Regions from separate parts of the Homo sapiens genome. Here region 1 is reported to be linked to region 2. The links are microRNA targets in miRTarBase. Many come from high-throughput screens and were not tested one by one. Region 2 holds a microRNA gene; the other region holds the end of a gene's coding sequence.

Region 1 (12,276 bases), not on the chromosome of region 2:
TTGGAGAAATTGACATACTAATGGTTACAAAGACTTTCTGAGAGGAGGTCTCCTATTGTGGAAGACTAAGCCAAAGTAACTGTTTCCAGTTATGTGGCAGTGTTTTTTAAAAACACTTTCCTAGACCCATGGGCATGTTATTTATGTGGACCAGGAAATGCAAATGATGATTGAAAATATGGGCCAGGCACGGTAGCTCACGCCTGTAATCGCAGCACTTTAGGAAGCCGAGGCGGGTGGATCACGAGGTCAGGAGATCTCATGGTGAAACCCCGTCTCTACTAAAAATACAAAAATTAACCAGGCATGGTGGCATGGGCCTGTAGTTCCAGCTGCTCAGGAGGCTGAGGCAGGAGAATGGCGTGAACCCAGGAGGTGGAGGTTGCAGTGAGCTGAGATTGCACCACTGCACTCCAGCCTAGGCGACAGAGTGAGACTGCGTCTTGAAAAAAAAAAAAAAAGAAAATATTATATAGCCTCATGAATCTAGCACTTTGTGTAATAGTCATTTACAACTAAATGAATATTGAATATTTCCTCGACCTCAATTTCTGTCCAGTGACTTCAACATCAATCAATACAGTATTGAAAGGGAATCTAGTCAGAGCACATGTCCTGATGCTATTTTCCCAAAGGCAAGGACTAGGTCTTTTCATCTCCTAGGACACAGTGGCTCACTAAGTAGAGCATAGGGAATTAGGGGATGGGTGTGGAATGTGATAGCTGCAAGAGATGTTTCCAAGCACTACACATATAGGGCAGAGTTCTTCTAGGCCAAGAAGTCGGAAGCTCCTTTTGCAGTGCAGATCCGACTTACTTGACGACTGCCTAACTTCTGGCTCTCACAGTTTTATTGGAGAATATGGAATGATTTCCTTTCATGGCCTGACACCTTCAGAACTCCCGATGGTAATTACAGGCAATTAGTGTGGTGGCTGAGAGTGGAGTCTTGGTGTCTTGGTTTCTTTATGTATAAAATGCCACCATCCTTCTTCACTTCGATTGCTACAATAGTATTTTTCCAGCTGGTCTTCCAGTTCCTGTTCTTGCTCCCTTATAGTCTACTTCCTATATGGCAGCTAGAATAATCTTTGTAAAACCATCAGTGTGGTTGCTCAAGCCTGTAATCCCAGCACTTTGGGAGGTCGAGGTGGGTGGATCACCTGAGGTCAGGAGTTCGAGAGTTGGAGACCAGCCTTGTCAACACGGTGAAATGCTGTCTCTACTAAAAATACAAAAATTAACCGGGCATAGTGGCACATGTCTGTAATCCCAGCTAATCAGGAGGCTGAGGCACGAGAATTGCTTGAACCTGGGAGGCGGAGGTTGCAGTGAGCCGAGATTGCACTACTGCATTCCAGCCTGGGCGACAGAGTTGAGACTCTGTCATAAACAAACAAACAAAATCTATCATGTCACTCCTGTGCTCAAGAGCTTTCAAAGACTTCCTATCACTCAGTAAAGGTTGAAGTCCTTACAATGGCCCATATAGACCCTACATAATCTGTCCCCTGCTACCTGTCTGACCTCATCACCCACAACCTTATCCCTAACTCTAGTCCAGAATCACCTGGAGGTCTTGTTAAAACAAAGTTGTTGGAAACAACTTTACCACAGTTGGTAGTTGGAAAACACAGCCATGGAAGTAGGAATCTACTAAGGAGAGTACAACTCACCTTCTGAAAACAAAAACAAAAACAAAAACAGAAAGCTGAGTCCCACCCTTAAGTTTTCTGGTTCAGTAGGTCTGGGGTGGGTTTAAGAGTTTTCATATCTAGTAAGTTTCCAGGTGAAGCTGATGCTGCTGGTCTTGGTAAAAACCACTTTGAAAACTACTGATCCAGCCAGCTCAACTGCTTTGGTATTTTTCAAACACACCAGGCACATTCCTGCTTAGGGACTTTGTACTTGGTCTTCCCTCTCTCTGAAACACTCTTATGTCAAATAGCAGCATGACTTGGACCCTTACCTCTGTCCAGCGTCATATTCTCAAAGAGATCCTCCTTGACACCCCTATTGGAAATCACACTCGACAACTGGCATTCCTATTTCTTCTTCTCTTTGTATTTTCTCCATAGCACTTAGCACTATTTGACATACTGTATGTTTTACTTATTTGTTTGCCTCCCTACCAATCACCCCCCCACATACCCCCCAACAGTTTGTCAGCTCCATGAGTCAGGGCTGTTAGATCTGTCCATTGCTGCCTATCTACCAGCTAGAATAATGCCTGACACATAGAGGACAATGAATGCTTGTTGGATGAATAAATCTGTAAAATGGGATAATGATAGTTCCTACTTCACAGGGTTGTGATGAAGATTAATGAGTTAAAAGATCTCTTAGAAAAGCACCTGTCACAGAGTTAAGTATCAATAAATGATAGCTAGTATTATTATTATTAGAGGGGAACCAAAAACATTTGGTGTACTACTGTGGAGATTCTGAGCCTTTATCAGGGTGTTTTTCCTTCTAGTTGTGTTGGACATGGGATTTGCTCTCTATAGAAGGTTCTTTGTTCCTGAAGATGGGTCTCCGGTGAGTTCAGTTTCTTTCTTTTATAAAATAGAAATTAGTTTACTGTCAAAAAGGGTTATCAAATAGGGGTTACAACGCTGTGATTTAGGGCAGCCAAATTTCCATTTGGAAGTTAAGAAAATTTTTAAGGAAATCAGACTTTTGAATTGTCCTTCCCACTTAACTCTCTCACAGCCCTGATCACTGGCTCTACTTCACTGCACCTGCCATATTGGTAGCTATTCCAAAACAGGAGAGAATGGCCAGGCGTGGTGGCTCATGCCTGTAATCCCAGCACTTTGGGAAGCCAAGATCGGCGGATCACAGGGTCAGGAGTTTGAGACCAGCCTGGCCAATATGATGAAACCCCGTCTCTACTAAAAATACAAAAATTAGCTGGGCGTGGTGGCAGTCACCTGTAATCCCAGCTACTCGGGAAGCTGAGGCAGGAGAATCGCTTGAATCTGGGAGGCGGAGGTTGCAGTGAGCCGAGATCGCACCACTGCACTCCAGCCTGGGTGACAGAGTGACTCTGTCTCAAAAAAACAAAAAACAGGAGAGAATGGATTTTCCTGTCCACATAGAATAAAAAGCAGTTGGTTTAGCCAGGCATGGTGGCATGTGCCTGTAGTCCCAGCTACTTGGGGAGCTGAGATGGGAGGATTGCTTGAGTCCTAGAGGTTGAGTCTACAGTGAGCTGTGATCATGCGACTGCACTCCAGCCTGGGCGACAGAGTTGAGACCCCATTTCAAAAAACAAAACAAAACAAAAAAACAGATTGGAAAACAGCAATGAAAGATTGAGTTCTATAAGTTGACAATAAAGAAAATTGACAAAATTTTCCAGTTTTGCTGTGATTTGTCTTTGAATTTGGTAGTTTCTGTTTGGGTATTTCTTGTGTATGTTATTACTTGTGTTTTAAATCTGAAACCCCATGTATGTGGAATCAGATTATGCTGCTATAGAGATCCCTCATGGCAACTCAACCATTCTCTTAGTTGGCATTATATAGAATTATTTTAAATGCAATGATGATTAAGAATGAGAAACAATTTCTCTGTCTTTTGTACTCTAAGAATGGGTGAAAATGACATTTTTAAGCTTTGTATCTTTCAGAGTATCTCCTTCTCTCTGTGCACATGGAGTTTTGTGTCTCTTTTGCCTTACCCCTAGTTCTCTAGACCTTTAAGACTCTTGTTTAACTGTGACGGTATTTGTGTTTGAATAAGAGAGATGCAACTGAAATACACAATTAGCATTGTCTTCACTTATTTCCATTTTCCCTCCTTTTCTCCCAAGGTGTCTTTTGCAGCTCACATTGCAGGTGGATTTGCTGGAATGTCCATTGGCTACACGGTGTTTAGCTGCTTTGATAAAGCACTGCTGAAAGATCCAAGGTTTTGGATAGCAATTGCTGCATATTTAGCTTGTGTCTTATTTGCTGTGTTTTTCAACATTTTCCTATCTCCAGCAAACTGACCTGCCCCTATTGTAAGTCAATTAATAAAAAGAGCCATCTGGAGGAAATAAAAAAAAAAGGAAGACTCTATGAAGAAACAGAGAAGTCTCAGAAAAGGCTAACAATTTTATATAGAGGACAAAACAGCATTAAACTCATCAGTTGCAAAGATTGCCTATAAAAGGACCTTAGGATTTAAGGAAGGGGCTTCTTAATGTAGAAAGGGAAGAAGAAGAGAGAAAAGAAGGGTAGTAAAAACTAGAGATTGGGGCCAGGCGCAGTGGCTCACGCCTGTAATCCCAGCACTTTGGGAGGCTGAGGCGGGTGAAATCACCTGAGGTCATGAGTTCAAGACCAGCCTGACCAATATGGTGAAACCCTGTCTCTACTAAAGAAAATACAAAAATTAGCCGGGCGTGGTGGCGTGTGCCTGTAGTCCCAGCTACTTGCGAGGCTGAGGCAGGAGAATTGCTTGAACCTGGGAGGCGAAGGTTGCAGTGAGCCGAGATTGCGCCACTGCACTCCAGCCTGGGTGACAGAGCGACACTCGGTCTCAAAAAACAAAACAAAACAAAACAAAATTAGAGATTGGGTCTTTCCCAGGCATATGGTATTCTATAAAACAGACTTACTCTCCTTGGAGGATATATTTTGGAGAATGCTTCATAAAATCTATGAATACTGTACAATGCTGATAATAAAAACTTTTTATACCTGTGTCAGACTCCTGATAATCACTTTAAAATAGATCACTGTTTGAGGAGATAGATCACTACTGTTTGAGGTGTTTTACACACTTTATTGATAATATTATCAACAACCCGGAAAGGTAGTTATTACTCTGCATCTTAGAGTAATCTTAAAGAATCCCTTAAAGGAACCCTTAAAGAATTAAGTACTTGTCTGAGGGGAGCAGAATTTAAACATAGATAATGACTTGGAAACCTGTAGTCTCCCCTATAGGTCCAACAATGCTGTGTTCCCCAAACACTGAAGGGTATCATAGGAGTACAGGAACAAACATCTATGCGGGGTACACCATGAATGGTGGAAATATCTCATAGAAGAAGACTGAGGATTTTCTGGACTGCTAGTTTAAGATTCTGATACCGTGTCTAAGATCCCAAGGAACCGGGCACTGGCTTTCTGGTGCACACTATATACCTAGACTTCAGATTCTCATCTGTGATCAGACTGTCATCCTTCATGTGGGTCATGGCTCTCCTAGGAGTGGGTAGGATTTATTTACAGAAGGTAAAATGTCATACCTGAAAGCTGAGAAGCATGTGTCATTTTCCTGTATAGAATTCAGACTGTGGTTTATTATGTTTTTGGAAATGGTAGTTTTGGGTCATCTGAATATAGGAAATATAATTTTTTCTTTTATCATCAATGTATTTATTAAACACCCATCTAAACATGTCACTGTATCTGGAAGGGGCATATACACTTAGTTAGATATAGTGAGAAAAGTTAATACTTTAGTATTTTGAGAAAAACTGATCAGAAATTTGTTTAAAAAGTTAAATTTAAGTATAAACATGGGAATATGAGTGTTTTTTTTTTTGTTTTGTTTTTTTTTGAGATGGAGTCTCGCTCTGTTTCCCAGGCTGGAGTGCAGTGGGCTGATCTTGGCTCACTGCAACCTCTGCCTCCTGGGTTCAAGCAATTCTCCTACCTCAGCCTCCAGAGTAGCTGGGATTACAGGCATGCGCCACCACATCTGGCTAATTATTATTTTTTTTTTTTTGAGACCGAGTCTTGCTCTGTCGCCCAGGCTGGAGTGCAGTGGCCGGATCTTGGTTCACTGAAACCTCCGCCTCCTGGGTTCAAGTGATTCTCCTATCTCAGCTTCCTGAGTAGCTGGGATTACAGGTGGCCGCCACCAAACCTGACTAATTTATTTATTTATTTATTTATTTATTTATTTATTTATTTATTTATTTATTTTTAGTAGAGACGGGGTTTCACCATGCTGGCCAGGCTGGTCTCGAACTCCCGACCTCAGGCCCTCAGGCGATCTGCCCGCCTTGGCCTCCCAAAGTGCTGGGATTACAGGTGTGAGCCACTGTGCCCGGTCCCTAATTTTTTTTTTTTTTTGAGATGGAGTTTCGCTCTTGTCATCTAGGCTAGAGTGCGATGGTACGATCTCGGCTCACTGCCACCTCCACCCACTGGGTTCAAGTGATTCTCCTGCCTCAGCCTCCTGAGTAGCTGGGATTACAGGCACCTGCCACCACGCCTGGCTAATTTTTGTATTTTTAGTAGAGACGGGGTTTCACCATGTTGGCCAGGCTGGTCTTGAACTCCTGACCTTAGGTGATCCGCCCACCTCGGCCTCCCAAAGTGCTGGGATTACAGGTGTGAACCACTGCACTCGGCTAATTTTTGTATTTTTTAGTAGAGACGGTGTTTCACCATGTTGGCCAGGCTGGTCTCAAACCCCTGACCTCAAGTGATCCACCCACCTCAGCCTCCCAAAGTGCTGGGATTACAGGTGTGAGCCACCATGCCTGGCCTTATGAGTGTGTTCTTGGTTAAACAAAGATTCAAACAAGAAGTTAAAAGATAAAATCTCAGCCAGGTGCAGTGGCTCATGCCTATAATCTCAGCACTTTGGGAGGCCAATGTGGGAGGACTGCTTGAGCCCAGGAGTTTGAGAACAGCCTGGGTAACATTCAAGAACTCTACAAAAACATAAAAAATAACCAGGTGTGGTGGTGCTTGCCTGTAGTTCTAGCTACTCCAGAGGCTGAGGTGGGAGGATCACTGGAACCCAGGAGTTCGAGGTTACAGTGAGCTATGATCATGCCACTGCCCTCCAGCCTGGGTGACAGAGTGAGACCCTGTCTTAAAAAAAAAAAAAATCTCCTTTTGCCTTCTCACTTCAAACCTGCTGTTTTTCCCTAGTGCTGACCATCATCAGTGGTCACAACAGTATGGTCTGTATCCTTGCAGACATTTTTCTATGTAGGATGAGCAGAAAGGAAAATGGATTTAAGTTAATGTCCAACTCATCCACTGTATTGAACTTCACTGAATCTGCTCTACACCCTCAAAGGGACAAATCTGAAGAACAAATTAGAGGTGTCCATGGTATAACTCCTCCTAAGCATCATTTGCTTCTCAGATTGATCTCAACTAGGAAAAGTTTTTGTTAATCGATTTTAGCTAAATATATATGTGTGTGTGTGTGTGTGTGTGTGTGTGTGTGTGTGTGTGTGTATATATATATTTTTTTTTTTCTTGAGACAGGGTCTTGCTGTGTCGCCCAGGCTGGAGTGCAGTGGCGCCATCTCGGCTCACTGCAACCTCTGCCTCCTGGGTTCAAGCAATTCTCCTGCCTCAGCCTCCCGGGTAGCTGGGATTATAGGCATGTGCCACCATGCCTGGCTAATTTTTGGTATTTTTAATAGAGACTGGGTTTCACCACATTGGCCAGGCTGGTCTTGAACTCCTGACTTCAGGTGATCCGCCTGTCTCAGCCTCCTCCCAAAGTGCTAGGATTATAGACATGAGCCCAGCCTCTAATTAGATATTTTTATGAAATGTAGGTTTTAACAGGATAAATGTGATACATGTATTGTTCTATAACTTGCTTTACAACATGACCTAGGGACCTTTCTCTATTAGTTCATAGAAATCTTTATTCTCTGAATTGCTGAATGATATAGATGTACCATAGATAACCATTCCTCTGTCAGACATTTAAATTATTGCTGCTTTTGTATAATTACCAACAGTGCTATGTGAACATCCTAGCATGTGCAGTGTGTCTCTGAATGTCTATGCTGAATGAATATTTCAAGTATCCAAAAGCAGAAATGCTATACTAATATTGATAGGTTTAAACTGCCTTTTAAATAGCTGTATCCATTTATATTCTTACCTACAGGATATGAGAGTAACAGTGTCTCCCTACTTTGCCAAAAGAAGGTATTATAAATCTTTAAAATTTTGCATTTTGATAGTTAAAAAATAATATTTCACTTAAATATGTATTCTCTGACTACCGAGGTTGAGGAAGTTTCGAGTTTATTAATAATTTATGAGTTACACATATGTAATTCAGATAACACATAATATAGAAACATGAATATATTGTGCATGTATGTGTGCCTATACAAATATATATATATATAAATAATATATATATAAAAATATATATGTAAATATATATATATATATATATATATATATATATATATATATATATATATATATTTGTCCCTGGTGAAATGTTTGTATTTAATCTGAGAAGTAGCTATTGTTGGCAAAAAAGCCCAGGGAAGAAGTATTTATCTGTTATGCTCAACCTGCCAGATCACTAGCTCTGAAGGGACCTTTAATGACCTAAAATACAATGTAATTGTTAATAACAGAACATGGGAGACAGAATCAGGATCTATCTATGAAATCGGACATGACCCATTTATTAAGGCAGATGACCAAGAAGTTATTATCTAGTAAGAAAGACTTTTTTGGTTCTAGAAACATGGTTTATTGCACAAAAAACAATGACATTTTATTAGGTTCCCCCAGTGGCAAAAGTTGCATACAAACAGCACACAAATACCTCCTGTCATTTTAAATTTGACATCTCTGAATTATGGAGGAATCATTCACTCAGCTTAATTTGGGGCTCATGACTTTAGTCTTCTAGATTGCAGTGTGTTATCAGGACTATTATAAGCATTCTTTATCTGTGCTGTCCAAAAAAGCAGCCATTAGGTAGATGCAGCTCTTTACATTTTTATTAAAATTATTTAAAATTAAAAATTCAATTGCTCTGACACACAAACCATAATGCAAGTGTTCAATAGCTACATTTGGCTACTGGCTGCCTTATTGGCTAGCACAGATAGAATATTTCCATTGTTGCAGAAAGTTCTATTGGATGGTGCTGTTTTAAAAGCAAGGATAAGCAGAAAGGGACATGGATTTTAGTTGATGGATGACTCACTCACTACATTCAACTGAACTGAATCTGCTCTATACCAGCAAAGGGACAAATTCAGAAAATAAATTGAAGATGGCCATGCTGTAACTTCTAAACATGGTTTGCTTCTCAGATTTACCTAAACTAAGAAAGGTTTGTGTTAATCTCTCTGTTTTAGCTTATTAAGAAAGAGTTGTTTGAAATGTTTTTATCTTTTTCTTTTGAATTCTATGGTACTGTATATATGTATACCAGTTTTTATGTCATTTGCTATGAAAGCTTTAATTTGTAGCTAAATACTACTGCTCCTTCTTTCAGGAAATACTATGTGTTGTCCTTTATGAAAAAAATATTTTCTTTCTTTTTATGATTATAAAAGTAAAATGCTTATAGTAAAAAATTAAAATACATGTAATTACAATATATTAAGTATATAATTTGTAATCCCAACATCCAGAGCTAATCACCGTTAATATTTTCATGAATATCCTTCTAGACTTTTTTGTATACATCTGTAAATGTAACTAAACTTATAATAATGGGGCCATATTATTCTATTTTATAACATCAATTTCACTGAAATGAAATATCAAATGCCATTTTATGTATGTTTATCATTTCTACTGGTTGCATAGTATCACACCGTGGATGTAGTCGATTATTTAACCAGTTTTTCTTGTATTATTATTTTATGTTTTTAGCTTATGACTATTATAAACAACATGAATTACATCTTTGCTTACATTATTATTATTTATGAACCATAAATGAGACTTAACTTGCTTACTTTTTTTTTATTTTTTGAGACAGAGTCTCACTCTATTGCCCAGGCTGGAATGCAGTGGCCAGATCTCGGCTCACTGCAACCTTCACCTCCCAGGTTCAAGCGATTCTCCTGCCTCAGTCTCCTGAGTAGCTGGGATTACAGGCATGTGCCACCATGCCCGGCTAATTTTTGTATTTTTAGTAGAGATGGGGTTCAACCATGTTGCTCAGGCTGGTCTCGAACTCCTGACCTCGTAATCCGCCCGCCTGTGCCTCCCAAAGTGCTGGGATTACAGGCGTGAGCCACCGCGCCTGGCCAACTTGCTTACATTTTAAAGTGCTTTGGGTTGTTGGGTCAGAGTATGCTATTATTATTATTATTATTATTATTATTATTATTATTATTTATTTTTTTTTGAGACAGAGTCTTGCTCTGTCGCCCAGGCTGGAGTGCAATGGTGTGATCTCGGCTCACTGCAACCTCTGCCTCTGGGTTCAAGTGATTCTTCTGCCTCAGCCTCCCGAGTAGCTGGGACTACAGGCGCCCGCCACCACGCCCGACTAATTTTTGTATTTTTAGTAGAGCAAGGGTTTCAACCATGTTGGCCAGGCTGGTCTCAAACTCCTGACCTCAAGTGATCCGCTGGCCTCGGCCTCCTAAAGTATTGGGATTACAGGCGTGAGCCACCGTGCCCGGCCAGAGTATGCTATTATTAACATAATAAAGTCAATGGAAAGTTTCTCTATTTCAGGAATACAACTATATTTTAGAAGGTTGATGCTTTTGCAAATCGTATTAACAGAGCCGGGCGCGGTGGCTCACGCTTGTAATCCCAGCACTTTGGGAGGCCGAGGCGGGAGGATCACGAGGTCAGGAGATCGAGATCACGGTGAAACCCCGTCTCTACTAAAAATAACAAAAAAATTAGCCGGGCGTGGTGGCAGGCGCCTGTAGTCCCAGCTACCCGGAGAGGCTGAGGCAGGAGAATGGCGTGAACCCGGGAGGCGGAGCTTGCAGTGAGCCGAGATCGCGCCACTGCACCCCAGCCTGGGCGACAGGGCGAGACTCCGTCTCAGAAAACAAACGAACAAAAAAAACAGAACAAAGGCTGAAGAAAGGAACTAAAGACTCTAGAACTAGTTATTTAAAAAGCCAAAGCTATCACTATTTTACATTCCTAAATTTAAATGATTAAACTTAAGAGAAAACAGATAATCTCTTAATGTTTCTTTCCGGCAAATTTGAAGTTTGCTTACAGAGGAAAAATAATAGTTTAGTAAAAAATTTAAGGAGCTGACTCTAAAGCCACAATGATTGGGTTTGAATGCCAGCTCCAGCTGTGTGACCTCAGGTAAATTAAGGTGTGCTTCCGTTTCCTCATCTGTAAGATGGGGGAAACAACATACTTACCGCATAGGATTTTAGTGATGAACACATCTTGTATCTTAGTAGTTTGTTTGATTGTGTAACAGTTCCCTTTATATAAAGGGGACAGGACATACATTTATATTTTAAATGAAAAATAATGAAAATATTCACTTTTAAAATCTTTCCTTTGGGGTATATTTCCTCTGAGATAACCTGGGATACCAACCTTAATATGCAATCTGCCGGCAAATAATCCAAGCAGCTAAATTATAACTTGCCCCACTGCTTCCTTCAAGAGAGCAGCTATATGTCTTAAATAGGTCAAATACTGCTACAGTGAAAGTTTCCATAATACTGCCACCATACCAGTGAACAATCTATTGCAAGTAATATCTATAATGAGATTCTGGTACCATAAGGCCGGGCGCAGTGGCTCACGCCTGTAATCCCAGCACTTTGGGAGGCCGAGGCAGGTGGATCACCTGAGGTTGGGAGTTCGAAACTAGCCTGACCAATATGGAGGAACCCCATCTCTACTAAAAATACAAAATTAGCTGGGCATGGTGGCGCATGTCTGTAATACCAGCTACTCTGGAGCCTGGGGCAGGAGAATCACTTGAACCTGGGAGGTGGAGGTTGCGGTGAGCCGAGATTGTGCCATTGCACTCCAGCCTGGGCAACAAGAGGGAAACTTCGTCTCAAAAAAAAAAAAAAAAAAAAGATTCTGGTACCATAAAATAGTTGAGAATTTTTGGAGTTCTTTTTGTTTTCTGAGACAGAGTTTCTGCTCTTGTCGCCAAGGCTGGAGTGCAATGGCGCGATCTTGGCTCACCGCAACCTCTGCCTCCCAGGTTCAAGTGATTCTCCTGCCTCAGCCTCCTGAGTAGCTGGGGTTACAGATGCCTGCCACCACACCCAGCTAATTTTTTGTATTTTTGTAGAGACAGTGTTTCACCATGTTGGCCAGGCTGGTCTCGAACTCCTGACCTCAGGTGATCCGCATCGGCCTCCCAAAGTGCTGGGATTACAGGTGTGAGCCACTGTGCTGGGCTTGAAGTTCATTTTAACGTAAGAATTTACAAAATTTGGGCTGGGCGCGGTGGCTTACTATGGGAGGCCGAGGCGGGTGGATCACTCAAGGTTCAGGAGTTCAAGACCAGCCTGGCCAACATGGTGAAACCCCGTCTCTACTAACAATACAAAAATTAGCCAAGCGTGGTGGCACT
Region 2 (12,276 bases):
AGAACTGTACGAACCAAAATTTATAATATTTAGAAGACAGAACAGTGATTAAAGAAGCAAGACAGACTTTGAAGAAAGTGCACCACAGCAGACAGTGCAACTCATATGAGTGCAGGACAATTTAATCTTAAAAAATGTCATCTGTCACCTTAAATTAATGCTATTCATTTAAATATATTCATTTCACTGTTTCATTTGCATGTAATTGGTATTTGTTTTGGTTTGTACTCGCAAAGGAACAATAAACATAGGGAGTTCATGTTTTATGTTTGAATATGTAAGTAACAATAAAAAGGAATAGTTCAGCAGTGGGAAGTCACAAGGAGAATTTTTAGGCTGAATGTTTATAATGGGATGACTATGGTACCCCAAAATTCATGTTCATCTACAACCTCAGAATATGACTTTATTTGGAAATAGAATATTTGCAGATGTAATTAGTTGAGGATCTGAAGTAGAAGTTATACTAGATTTAAGGTGGGACCTAAATCCAATTACTGGTGTTCTTATGAGAAGAGGAGAGGGCATACGGACATACACAGAAAAGAAGGCCATGTAAAGACAAAGGAAAAGACTGGAGTGATGTGGCTACACTTCAAGGAACATCAAGGAATACCTGGAGCCGCCATAAGTTAGAAAGAGGCAAGGAAGGATTCTCCTGTAGGACCTTTAAAGGGAGCACAGTCCTGCCAACATCTTGATTTCAGACTTCTGGCCTTCAATATTGTGAGAACACATTTCTGCTGAGTTAAGGCATCCAGTTTGTGGTCATTTGTCCCCACTGCCCTAGCCCTATGGCAGTTCCTAACAACTACACAATCAAGGTTTACAGGTTGCCAAGAAAGAGATGCCCTCAGCTCTGTGGAAAGCAGGATGGGGTTTAAGGTCAGTTGACTCCCAGTAAAGCAGAATCTTCTTTTTACCCAGTAGGCCACACACCTATTATTTGGATATATTTTTAAAAGTATGGGCATGTGAAAAGCATTTGGAAGCTCCTCACAATAGTTCTCTGCAAGCACGGTATCATGCAGGTCCATGAGTTTTCACAGTATACCACTTACTGGCATTCACAAAACTGCAGGGACAATGCAAAGGCCACACTCATTATCAGACAGAGAGACACACCTACGATGTGACTTTTTTTTTTTTTTGAGACGGAATCTCGCTCTGTCGCCCAGGCTGGAGTGCAGTAGTGTGATCTCGGCTCACTGCAAACTCTGCCTCCCGGGTTCACGCCATTCTCCTGCCTCAGCCTCCAGAGTAGCTGGGACTATAGGCGCCCGCCACCACGCCCAGCTAATTTTTTTTTTTTTTTTTTGTATTTTTAGTAGAGATGGGGTTTCGCCCTGTTAGCCAGGATGGTCTCCATTTCCTGACCTCGTGATCCACCCACCTCGGCCTCCCAAAGTGCTGGGATTACAGGCGTGAGCCACCGTGCCCGGCCCGATGTGACTTTTCATTTATTGCTGTGGCTTTTTGCCTCTGTCTTTGTTCAGGCTGCTATAATAAAATATCAAAATCTGGGTAGCTTATAAACAACAAAAATTTATTTCTCACACTCCTAGAGGCTAGGAAGGGGATGCCTACAGATTTGGTGTCTGGTGAGGGCCTGCTTTCTCATAGATGGAACCTTCCTGCTGCATCTTCACATGGTGGAAGGGACAAGGCAGCTCCTTGGGGCCTCTTTTATAAATGCACTAATCCCATTCATGAGGGTAGAGGCCTCAGGACCTCATCACGTCTCAAAGTCCCCACCTTCTAATCCCATCACTTTGGTGATTAGGTTTCAACATATGAATCTGAGGGAGACACAACCATTCAGACCACAGGTCACCTCAAGATCTAGACCATGTTCCCTGCCTTCTAAAGATACAATTTCATGTATCTGTGGACCAGGTGCCAAAGAGTAGTTACAGGCATCAGGGATAAGACAATGGATACAAGTGTGGAGAAGAACTATCTTAGATGCAGTGGGTGGTTGGGAAGAGTTGTTGTTCGTATTCATTAAAAAGAACATTGGTTCTTCCAGGGGGGAGGTGGAGAGTCTTATTAACAGTCAACACAAGTTGTGTCAGTGGAGTTGTGGAAGTCTTAGGCTCAAAAATCAAGCACACCCATGCAGCAAAAACATGCCTCCTAACTGCTGTGTAACACTGTGAGGATGCTCTCCTGGTGCACATCATCTCCATGATGCAAGCCTCCCGGAAATAATTGCTAAGGATCTCAAGGTTAATAAGGAGCAGGAATGTGGTAAGGATCTCAGGGTTGATAAGGAGCAGGAATGTGGTAAGGATCTCAAAGTTGTTAGGAACAGGAAAGGCAGGGAAGTATATGGAGGTCTGAGGTCTGTACGTTTGCTAATAGGTCATTAGGCTTCTTTAGCCATGGCTTGATTTTTTTTTTTTTTTTCTTGAGACAGTGTCTCACTCTGTCACCCAGGCTGGAGTGCAGTGGTGCGATCTTGGCTCACTGCAACCTCCACCTCCCAGGTTCGAGCTATTCTCCTGCCTCAGCCTCTCGAGTAGCTGGGATTACAGGCATGCATCACCACGCCTGGCTTATTTTTGTATTTTTAGTAGAGACGGGATTTCCCCATATTGGCCAGGCTGGTCTCGAACTCCTGACCTCAGGTGATCCGCCCGCCTCGGCCTCCTAAAGTGCTGGGATTACAGGAGTGAGCCACCGCACCTGGCCACCATGGCTTGATTTTTAAAACATCATAGTGGCCCAAATAATGGCACCAATAGGTGACCTGTGTAGGCTTTTGGCACCCATGACATCCACTGGCCTCCACCCCTGAAGTTATCCCAAATAAACATACACTCAAAGTAAAATAGGATTTGTGTTATATGAAAGCAGCTTCCAGGCAAACTCCTTAGCTCCCCTTCCCAACCCACTTGTTACTCCCAAGCCATATACAGAAATCTGGTGCTACCACTCATACCTCTAATTCTATCATGGCTCAAACCTGTAGGAAGGCACCAGTTGCTCTGATCTTCATGAATGGAGCCTGATCAGCCTCATTTTCCCAGTAGTGGATGTTTGCTGCTCAGGCCAGACCCCATATTTGATGTGATATGCCCCAGCATAATACATGGACAGTTATGTGCCCTCCTGGAGGTGCCAGCAGAGAGTGGCGAATATAACCAGCTGCAGTGGCTTGCGGTCTGCCCCAGAGCTTTGTAGATTTGACATGGAAATTAACTCTTCAGGCAACAATCCTAAAAGGTCTTCCTGGGACCAGTCAGGAAGCACCGATGATTGTATCTCTGATCCTGGACCAGCATGAGGACTGTAGTGTCCAGGCTGAATGTCCCTTCTTTCTATTGTTTTACATATTCATGTGCAGGAAGGAGAGCATGCCACATAGTATAGTCAGGAATCCTGCCTGTTTGAAAGAGTATAATTCTAGATATGAGAAAAACAATGGTTCAGAGTTTCCCACAAACCCTAAGCCAGAGGTGCCGCTTGTGGTTTTCAAAGTGCTTGCAAATTCTTTGACACTCTTCCCATCAAATAGTAGAGTTTATGTTCCCTCCTGTTGAACTTGGGTGGGCTTTTGTAACCGCCTTGATGAACAGAATGTGGCAGAAGTGAGGATAATTCTGAGTGAAGTTAGACATACAGCTTCTCCTGGCTTCTCTGGGGAGAACTGCTCTGTGGGGCATGGGCTTCCATGTACAAATCAAGATACTCTGAAAAGGACCACTTGGAGAGTCTAAATAAGTAGACAGATACCTAAGGAGCCCCAGTTGTTCCTATCCCCAGCTTCTTGAGTCTTCCCGGCCCAGGTGCCAGAGCTTTCAAGATGACCCCAGCCTCATCCACCACGTGACTACAGCCTCATGAGAGACCTCAACCCAGCTCAGCCAACCTGCTTCCTAATTTCCGATGCCTTGAAACCATAAAAGACAACAACTGCTTGTTCTCGTTTCAAGCCTTTACAATTTAGGGTGATTTGCTATGCAACATTAAATAACAAGACCACAGCCTGAGTAAATGAAGCTGCTGAAGGGAGCCCAAGAGAAACTCGGAATTACCTCCAAATTTCTCTGAAGAAAGGATTCGAGGTAAGGAAAAGATCTGCAGCTGCTTGTAAGGCAGATCATCTGTCTTCACCATGCTGAAAGAGCAAGGTGGACTCCTGCTTGAAGAGCACTGTAACTTACTCATGCAGTAATGTGGAATCAGGAAAGGAAAGTGATAGTAACAATTTGCTTACAATTGCCAGGGCAAGGGCAGAGACTTGGAGAACACAGTGGGAAATGAATGGTAAATATGTCATTCTCTACTGGAGGCAGGAGTGGGAAGTAATTAGCTGGGGAGGAGTGGGAGCTGGCTAAGGTCAGAAACAGTGACCTTACAGCATTATTATCTTTCAAATTCAAATACACTTCTATACCTCGCTTTGGGTTGCTGGGACAGAAACTGCAAACGACATTTCTATTTTTCCAGCCAGATACCTTTCAGGCTCTTTAGGGGGTGGTAGAGGGAGCCTGCAAGGCTGGAGGAAGAAGAGAGAATTTGCTGCCTCCTGTCTACTTCTTATTCCTGTGATGTCACCTGAGCAAAGCTTCTTCAAATGGGCAGAGGCACGGCCTTCTCACAGCAGCAGCTGAATCTGCTTTTCAATTTTGTCCCATTTATAAAACACGCTCCTTTGTACCCACTCAGAGACATTAACCCCAGCCAGCCAGTACCAACTCCTCAGAAAATTTGAGTCTCCAAGACTCCTACTCTACGTTTCCAAGTTTAATAATTCCAATCTCTTCCCTCTTTTCCCTCAGTTGAAAGGGTGGTAGCTGATGACTGCAGTTGCCACTTACCTCTGTGATACTTTAGAGATCTTTTTTCCCTTCTCAGTTACCTAGCTAATGGCTTTTTACCTAGTTGCAATTCTTCATATTAAAATTTTCCTTTTCCTTTACCTGGTGTGGCTTCTGTCTGCTGAATGGATCCTGACTAATAAAAGGTATTTCTTCCAAAGAAAAATCTATGATGGTAACTGAGGTTGGGGGTAACTGAAGGTTCAAATAGCAGGGAGATCAAGTTCAAATACCAAATGCAAAGACCACAGACAGAATTTGAAAGAGTGACCACAAAGTTAGGAGGTTGAAGGTGGGCAGAGACATAAGCAAAATAAGAGTAGGACTGGAACAAGATAGAAGGCTTAGGGTGATTGCTATGGAGGTGGAAATTATCAACCCATCCACCTACCCGCTACCCTCCCCCAGTCAGTAGGATGGGTAAAGCTGATTTAAAAACCTCAGGCAAGGCCAGGCGCGGTGGCTCACGCCTGTAATCCCAGCACTTTGGGAGGCCAAGGTGGGCAGATCGTGAGGTCAGGAGGTTGAGACCATCCTGGCTAACATGGTAAAACTCTGTCTCTACTAAAAATACAAAAAATTAGCCAGGCATGGTGGCATGCGCCTGTAGTCCCAGCTACTCGGGAGGCTGAGGCAGGAGAATCACTTGAACCTGGGAGGTGGAGGTTGCAGTGAGCCGAGATCGTGCCACCGCACTCAAGCCTGGGCGACAAAGCGAGATTCTGCCTCAAAAAAAAAAAAAAAAAAAAATCTCAGGCAAAAGTGGACATTACTTGTCTAGATTTGGGGTTGATGAGGGTTTTTTATTGGAGGTGGGAGTCGTTTTGTTTTTTTGAGACAAGGTCTCCCTTTGTCACCAGGTTGGAGTGCAGTGGTACGATCTCCGCTCACTCCAGCCTCACCCTCCTGGGCTTAGGTGATCCTTCCACCTCAGCCTCCCGGGTAACTGGGATGACAGTCACATGCCACCATGCTTGGCTAATTTTTAAAATGTTTCGTACAGATGGGGTCTTGCTATGTTGCCGAGACTTGCCTTGAACTTGTGAGCTGAAGCGATCAAGTTCTAAGAGCAGCTTATAATATGATTTTTAACGCATGTTGTCTATGATCATAGAGGGAGATAGACATGGAAAGAAAGAGGGCCTTTTCTGCCTTGTGCCTTTTTCCATGTCTATTCTAAGGACCAGGATTGCCTTGAGACCAACACTGTGAGAGCCCTGACTCAGTATCCATAGATATTCTATCTGCACATTGCAGAGCACTAAGCCAGTCCGCCTTCTCAGCTTCAGACTAGTCAGTTTCATGGACTTTCAGCATCTCTGTGTAGATGTTTCCAGGCACCTCAAACCCACCATGCTCAAGGATGGATCTAATCTCTTTTTTCATTCAGATTTCCCCCCCGCCGCCACCATGGAAAGCAGGTAGGAAACACTGGATTTCTTCAATGTAGCCCCCCAAAACAGAAACCTGGTTGCCTTTTCTTTTTTCTTTTTTTTTGAGATGGAGTCTCACTCTGTCGCTCAGGCTGGAGTGCAGTGGTGTGATCTCGGCTCACTGCAACCTCTGCCTCCTAGGTTCAAGCGATTCTCCTGCCTCAGCCTCCTGAGTAGCTGGGATTGCAGGCGCCCACCACCACACCCGGCTAATTTTTGTATTTTTAGTAGAGACAGGGTTTCACCATGTTGGCCAGGCTGGTCTTGAACTCCTGACCTCAAGTGATCCGCCCGCCTCGGCCTCCCAAAGTGCTGGGATTACAGGCATGAGCCACCACGCCCGGCCCTGGTGACCTCTTAGCATCTTCCCTTTTTGCTTCTTCTGGCTTCAAACTATTTGAAATACTCTGTGTGACACATCAGTGAACAAAATGAAGTCTTGTTGCCTAGTTGGGAAAAATGGAAAATCAGCAAAAGGTAAATCTGGGAAAGACTTTTTATTTAAATTATTTCTCTTTGAAGGGACTCATGAAAAATTGAGAAAATAGGGAGCGGTACTGGTCATGAGGAATGTGGGGAGGGAATCCTGAAATCTCCAGCTCTGATTTGCAGAGAAGGTTTGAGAATAAAGAGCTCCAAGAGCTGTTTGACTCATGTTGGCCGATCCTGAAATCCAGAAGTCCCCTGGCAGGAAACCCTCTGGAGACGACAGACTAAACCATCCTGCCATTGTCAGCCTCACAAGGGGCTCAGCAACTCAGCAAAAGGAAGTTGTTTTTTTGTATTGCACTTTTTTTTTGTCTTAAAGAGATATCCTTCTTAATAGTTACATTAATATCTTGAATAAAGATGGAGAGTGTATGTCAACTTGGAAGAGACAGCAACCATACTGGAAGTCAGAATCAGAATCTCAAAACATCTTAACATAAGGCTAAAGAAAGGGACCAACAACAGAAGAGAAATTAATAGGAGCAAAGGTAAAATTTTGTACTGAGGTTCAAAAAGCCACTTGTAGAAGTGCAGAATGGGGAGATGTGGCTGAACAGGACCCCAAACTTTTCAAGCTTGTTCTTGATGTTCTCTCAGTCAGGGTATGCTAACTGCTATAATGACAGTGCCCAAGTCCCAGTGATTTCAAGATATCCTGTGGAGAAAAAAGTATGGAAGGGGCCAGGCACAGTGACTTATTCCTGAAATCTCGGGACTTTGGGAGGCCAAGATGGACAGATCGCTTGAGCCCAGGAGTTCAAGACTAGCCTGGGGAACATAGCGAGAACTTGCCTGTACTAAAAATAAAAATAAAAATAAATCAGCCGGTCATGGTGGCGTGTACCTGTAGGCCTAGCTGCTCGGGAGGCTGAGGTGGGAGGATCACCAGAACGCAGGAGGTCAAGGCTGCAGTGCGCTATTGTCGTGACACTGCACTCCAGCCTGGGTGTCAAAGTGAGATTCTGTCTCAAAAAAAGTGTGGAAGGGATAACAGTGCTGGCTCAATTGATTGCTTCCTGTGAGACTGGACATTTCCATTAACATGTGCCCAGCAAAGGGATTTTTAGATAATATTATCTAATTTTAACTAAGTTAACCCTCATATTGGAAAAATTGGCTTTAAAAATATTTCTGTAAAAAAATAGGTGAAAGAAAGACAACAGCAGAATAAACCTAAAGAAAATGGCAGAGCAAACCCTTCTGTTCTAAATATAAATTCTACATCAGCCACAATATGAGGTTAAAAGAAAAGAATGGTAGGATAATTAGACCAGCAGGTAGTCCCTTCAAATCCAAAGTTATCAAGAAGACCATTTAAATTATGAATTTATATCCACTGCCATTAATGATAAAATTCTTCCTAGTTGGCTGGCATGTTATGTCTTAAGATGTTAACTAGTAATAATATAAAGTTATTATGATTAACAAGATATTTGAAAGCCAAACATTCAAAATGGAAGAAAAATTTCAGCAGCTTTTTGAGAAATTTCACAAAACCTACTAATAATTGCTCAGAAACTTCTTTTGAGGTTTTTTGTTTTACGGTTAAGAAACAAAAGCCACAAACCATTGGGGTCTCTGGTTCTCCCTGCCACAACAAAAAATGTTGAAATAATTATAAAACAAAAGGCCAAAAACTAAAATTCACTCTTTTGTCAGCAATTTTTTGGGAAGTCACATAGTAAATATTACGGAAGATATGAAGAAACAACTTAGTATTGGCCATGCATTTGGGTGAAAGTATAGGTATTTCTATCATGTCTCAGCTTATGGCATTTTTTGGATTCTATTTCAATAGTTACATTCTTGAAGAACTGCTTTTTTTTTTTTTTGAGACAGAGTTTTGCTCTTGTCGCCCAGCTGGAGTGCAATGGCGCAATCTTGGCTCACTGCAACCTCCGCCTCCTGGGTTCAAGTGATTCTCCTCCTACCTCAGCCTCCTGAGTAGCTGGGATTACAGTCACCCGCCACTAGGCCCAGCTAATTTTTGTGTTTTTGGTAGAGACGGTGTTTCACCATGTTGGCCAGGCTGGTCTTGAACTGCTGACCTCAGGTGATCCACCCGCCTTGGCCTCCCAAAGTGCTGGGATTACAGGCGTGAGCCACCGTGCCTGGCCAAAGAACTGCTTTTTAATGAAGCACTTTAAAGAAAAAATCATACTGGAAAATCAGACTAAAGAATATCTCAATGATAATTTTTTTTTAAAAAAACAATATTTTATCGGAAAACTTTTAAAGTATAACCACTGAATTTACAAGAATAAAAGGTATTCCTGCAGAGGAACAACAAAATTTCCAGAAACCTTGACAGAGATATTCATCTCAGTGGTGTTCATCCAATGTGTCATTCAATGGGGAGCTAATGCACCAAGAAATTGATGCTGGAACGTGCATAATACTCTTGATATCAACAATGCAATTCGTTTCAAAGAAAACCTGTAAGCAGCAGAACTTTAGAAGGTTATAATGAGATAGAAAGTCTTTGAGATTGTATCATAATCCTTCTTGTTCTTCTACCCAATATTGATTTTCTTCTCTTCTCTTCTAGGGGTATTTTCCCAAGAACACTCCCTAATTCGATCCCTACATGCTAATCTCCATTTCACAGTCTGCTTTCCAGAAGACCCACTTGCAATGGTGGCAGGAATGGTCCAAGAAAGCACGTGCCCATGTGAGATTCTGCAGCTGCCAACCACCGGCCAGCTAGCAGTGAGAACCCAGATAACCAAGGTGTCCTTGAAAAAGTGACAGTTAATGTGACACCTGAAGGGGCATTTAGTCAGACCAAGGAGTATTGGTAGGAAGAAGAAGAGAAGTATTCCAAGCAAGAACCAACTGTGGCCAAGTCCCAAAGGGATAAAGAGTGAGTTACAATCACGGAATTAAAAGATATTTCTTGCGACTGTGTGTCGGGTTATTAGAGGGAGACAGCAAGAGGGCACACAGCCCAAGATGAGGCTGAGAAGGCAAGCAGGGGACATGCAGATTTATCTGGAAGAGGCCAGGCACAGTGGCTCACACCTATAATCCCAGCACTTTGGGAGGCCGAGGTGGGTGGATCACCTGAGGTCAGGAGTTCGAGACCAGTCTGGCCAACGTGGTGAAACCCCATCTCTTACTAAAAATACAAAAATTAGCTGGATGCAGTGGCATGCGCCTGTAATCCCAGCTACTCGGGAGGCTGAGGCTGGAGAAACACTTGAACCCAGGAGGTGGAGGTTGTTGTGAGCCAAGATTGTGCCACTGTATTACACTCCAGCCTGGGCGACAGAGTGAGACACCATCTCAAAAAAAAAAAAAAAAAATTTATCTGGAAGACAATGGAAGGGGAGATGATGCGAAGGGAGTGGGGAGTGAGTGACTTTCAGAGTGTGAGTTGGACAACCAGACAAGGCAGAGATTATCTAAACTCCATGGAAGCAGGAGCCTTGCCTGTGCTGCTATATTCCCAATGCACAGCACTAGTCTGGTAGGTCTTCCATAAATATTTGTTGAGTAAATGAATGAATGCGTAGATGAATAAGCTGGGAAGTTGAGATGATAAGTTCACTTTTGGACACAGAAATTTTTTTTTTTTTTTTGAGATGGAGTCTAGCTCTGTTGCCCAGGCTGGAGTGCAGTGGTGCAATCTTGGCTCACTGTAACCTCCACCTCTTGGGTTCATGCCACTCTCCTGCATCAGCCTCCTGAGTAGCTGGGACTACAGGCGCCCACCATCACGCCTGGCTAATGTTTTGTACTTTTAGTAGAGACGGGGTTTCACCATGTTAGCCAGGATGGTCTCGATCTCCTGACCTCGTGATCTGCCCGCCTTGGCTTCCCAAAGTGCTGGGATTACAGGCGTGAGCCACAGTGCCCGGCCTTGGTCATAGAGAATTTTGAGTGCCCATGGGTCCTCTTTTGAAAGTGTACACTGGGGATTATACAACCTTTTGTTCAATTCTGAAGATAACCAGTGAAAAAATAACTCCTGTGTCCTTATTTTGAGACCATTATTCTCCCCCCACATTTAGAAGTTTGAAGTCCCCATAAGACCTGTGTAATCAATACCTAATCACCTTGAACCAAATGTGATTTTAAAAATGGGAGTGGCTGAGTATTGATCTTAACTAATGGAGAAACTGCCTGACTCTTGTGATCATCCAAATCCCTTTATCTTGTTTTAACCATAATGCACATAATTATCTTTTTTTTTTTCTTATTTTTAAATTTTGGAACTTGAGCCTAACATGTCATATGCATATCACACTAAGGTGTTCTGGTCAAAATTAACTGTAAGAGTATGGCACTTTTAAATGGACAAAAAAGGCTAGCTAATGAGTAGAAGGAAAATGAAAGAATAGACGGGAATCCAAGGATTTTTACTGCCATCCAGTGGTGGAGCTCTCAGGCAAATATGATGTAAAGCCCCCAGTCAGTCTTCATGTTTTCCACTGCCAAGTCCCAAATGCATTCATTCAAGCTTAGTGACTAACTTGCAATGCTAGCCTACCATACAAGTTTGTATTGTGTTTTCTTGATTTTGAAAGTAATTGGTTGGTCCTCTTGTGATCCTGAAGAAGATCATAGCCTTCCATAAGTAGCCAGTTTAAGAGTTACTTGGGCTGGGCGCAGTGGCTCACACCTGTAAACTTTGGGAGGCCAAGGCGGGTGGATCACCTGAGGTCGGGATTTCAAGACCAGCCTGACCAACATGGGCAAACCCCGTCTCTACAAAATATACAAAATTAGCCAGGCGTGGTGGCGCATGCCTGTAATTCCAGCTACTCGGGGGGCTGAGGCAGCTGAATTGCTTCAACCTGGGAGGCGGAGGTCGTGGTGAGCCGAGATCATGCCATTGCACTCCAGCCTGGGCAACAAGAGTGAAACTGTCTCAAAAAAAAAAAAAAAAAAAAAAAAAAAAAAGAGTTACTTGTACTTGATGAGGGGAGAATCTGACTCATTAATGCCCTCATGTTGCCAGCACACTCAACCCCTTCTTGCTTTCCCAAGCCCACCGCAAATTCACACCCTTATGGAGAGTGAATCTCACAGATTCACCTTTAAGTCCCAACTGGCCATTTCCAAGTTATTTTTTATCTGTGATTTTATAACTGTTGGCTCCTAGATGGACAGCTTAGAACCCATGGCAACAAAAAAAGGAATGGAAGAAACCCTAACTCATTGACATTAAACAAGCAAGCGCCTTTGCCAACCTGATGGAGAAAAATAAATAAAATTGTTATCACCAGATTTAGTCTAAAAGAAAAATAATCGGCCCAAGCATAGCATGCATGTTTTACAAACTGCACTTTTTTGGCCTTGACAAACACCATCCAGTTTACCCAAAGTTCATAAAAGGTTAATGTTTTCTACTTTTGAAATGCACATATACTGTTCTCTGTGTGCTAATGATGTGGCCTCTTAACCAGGGTTTGATTTTTCTGTGCCCATCCACCAATTTGCTCAAAGTCATGGTCTCAGGCAGTGACGTCATTCCTTGACACTAAAAACAAACACCATCCAGATCTCTGTTTACTTTCTCCTGC

Evidence for each region. Region 2 holds the annotated microRNA hsa-miR-4430 (AGGCUGGAGUGAGCGGAG, at 5,708-5,725, opposite strand). A microRNA usually pairs through its seed, bases 2 to 8, with sites in the 3' UTR of a target mRNA and lowers its output. Matches are read on the target gene's strand: a 7mer-m8 pairs with bases 2 to 8, a 7mer-A1 pairs with bases 2 to 7 and ends in A, and an 8mer does both.
Region 1: miRTarBase lists RHBDL2 as a target of hsa-miR-4430. Seed matches in the 3' UTR shown: 7mer-m8 at 4,500-4,506.

The regions. Positions count from the first base shown.
Region 1 is chr1:38,878,225-38,890,500 of GRCh38, reverse strand. It overlaps RHBDL2 (rhomboid like 2), which reads left to right. Exons shown (of 8, transcript NM_017821.5): 7 at 2,477-2,538; 8 at 3,818-4,694. The coding sequence ends at 3,997. GJA9 (gap junction protein alpha 9) reads left to right here and starts at 8,914. Exons shown (of 2, transcript NM_030772.5): 1 at 8,914-9,069. GJA9-MYCBP (GJA9-MYCBP readthrough) reads left to right here and starts at 8,875. Exons shown (of 3, transcript NR_037637.1): 1 at 8,875-9,069. RefSeq lists a silencer at 10,690-10,874.
Region 2 is chr2:33,411,968-33,424,243 of GRCh38, reverse strand. MIR4430 (microRNA 4430) reads right to left here and starts at 5,728; the gene lies at 5,680-5,728.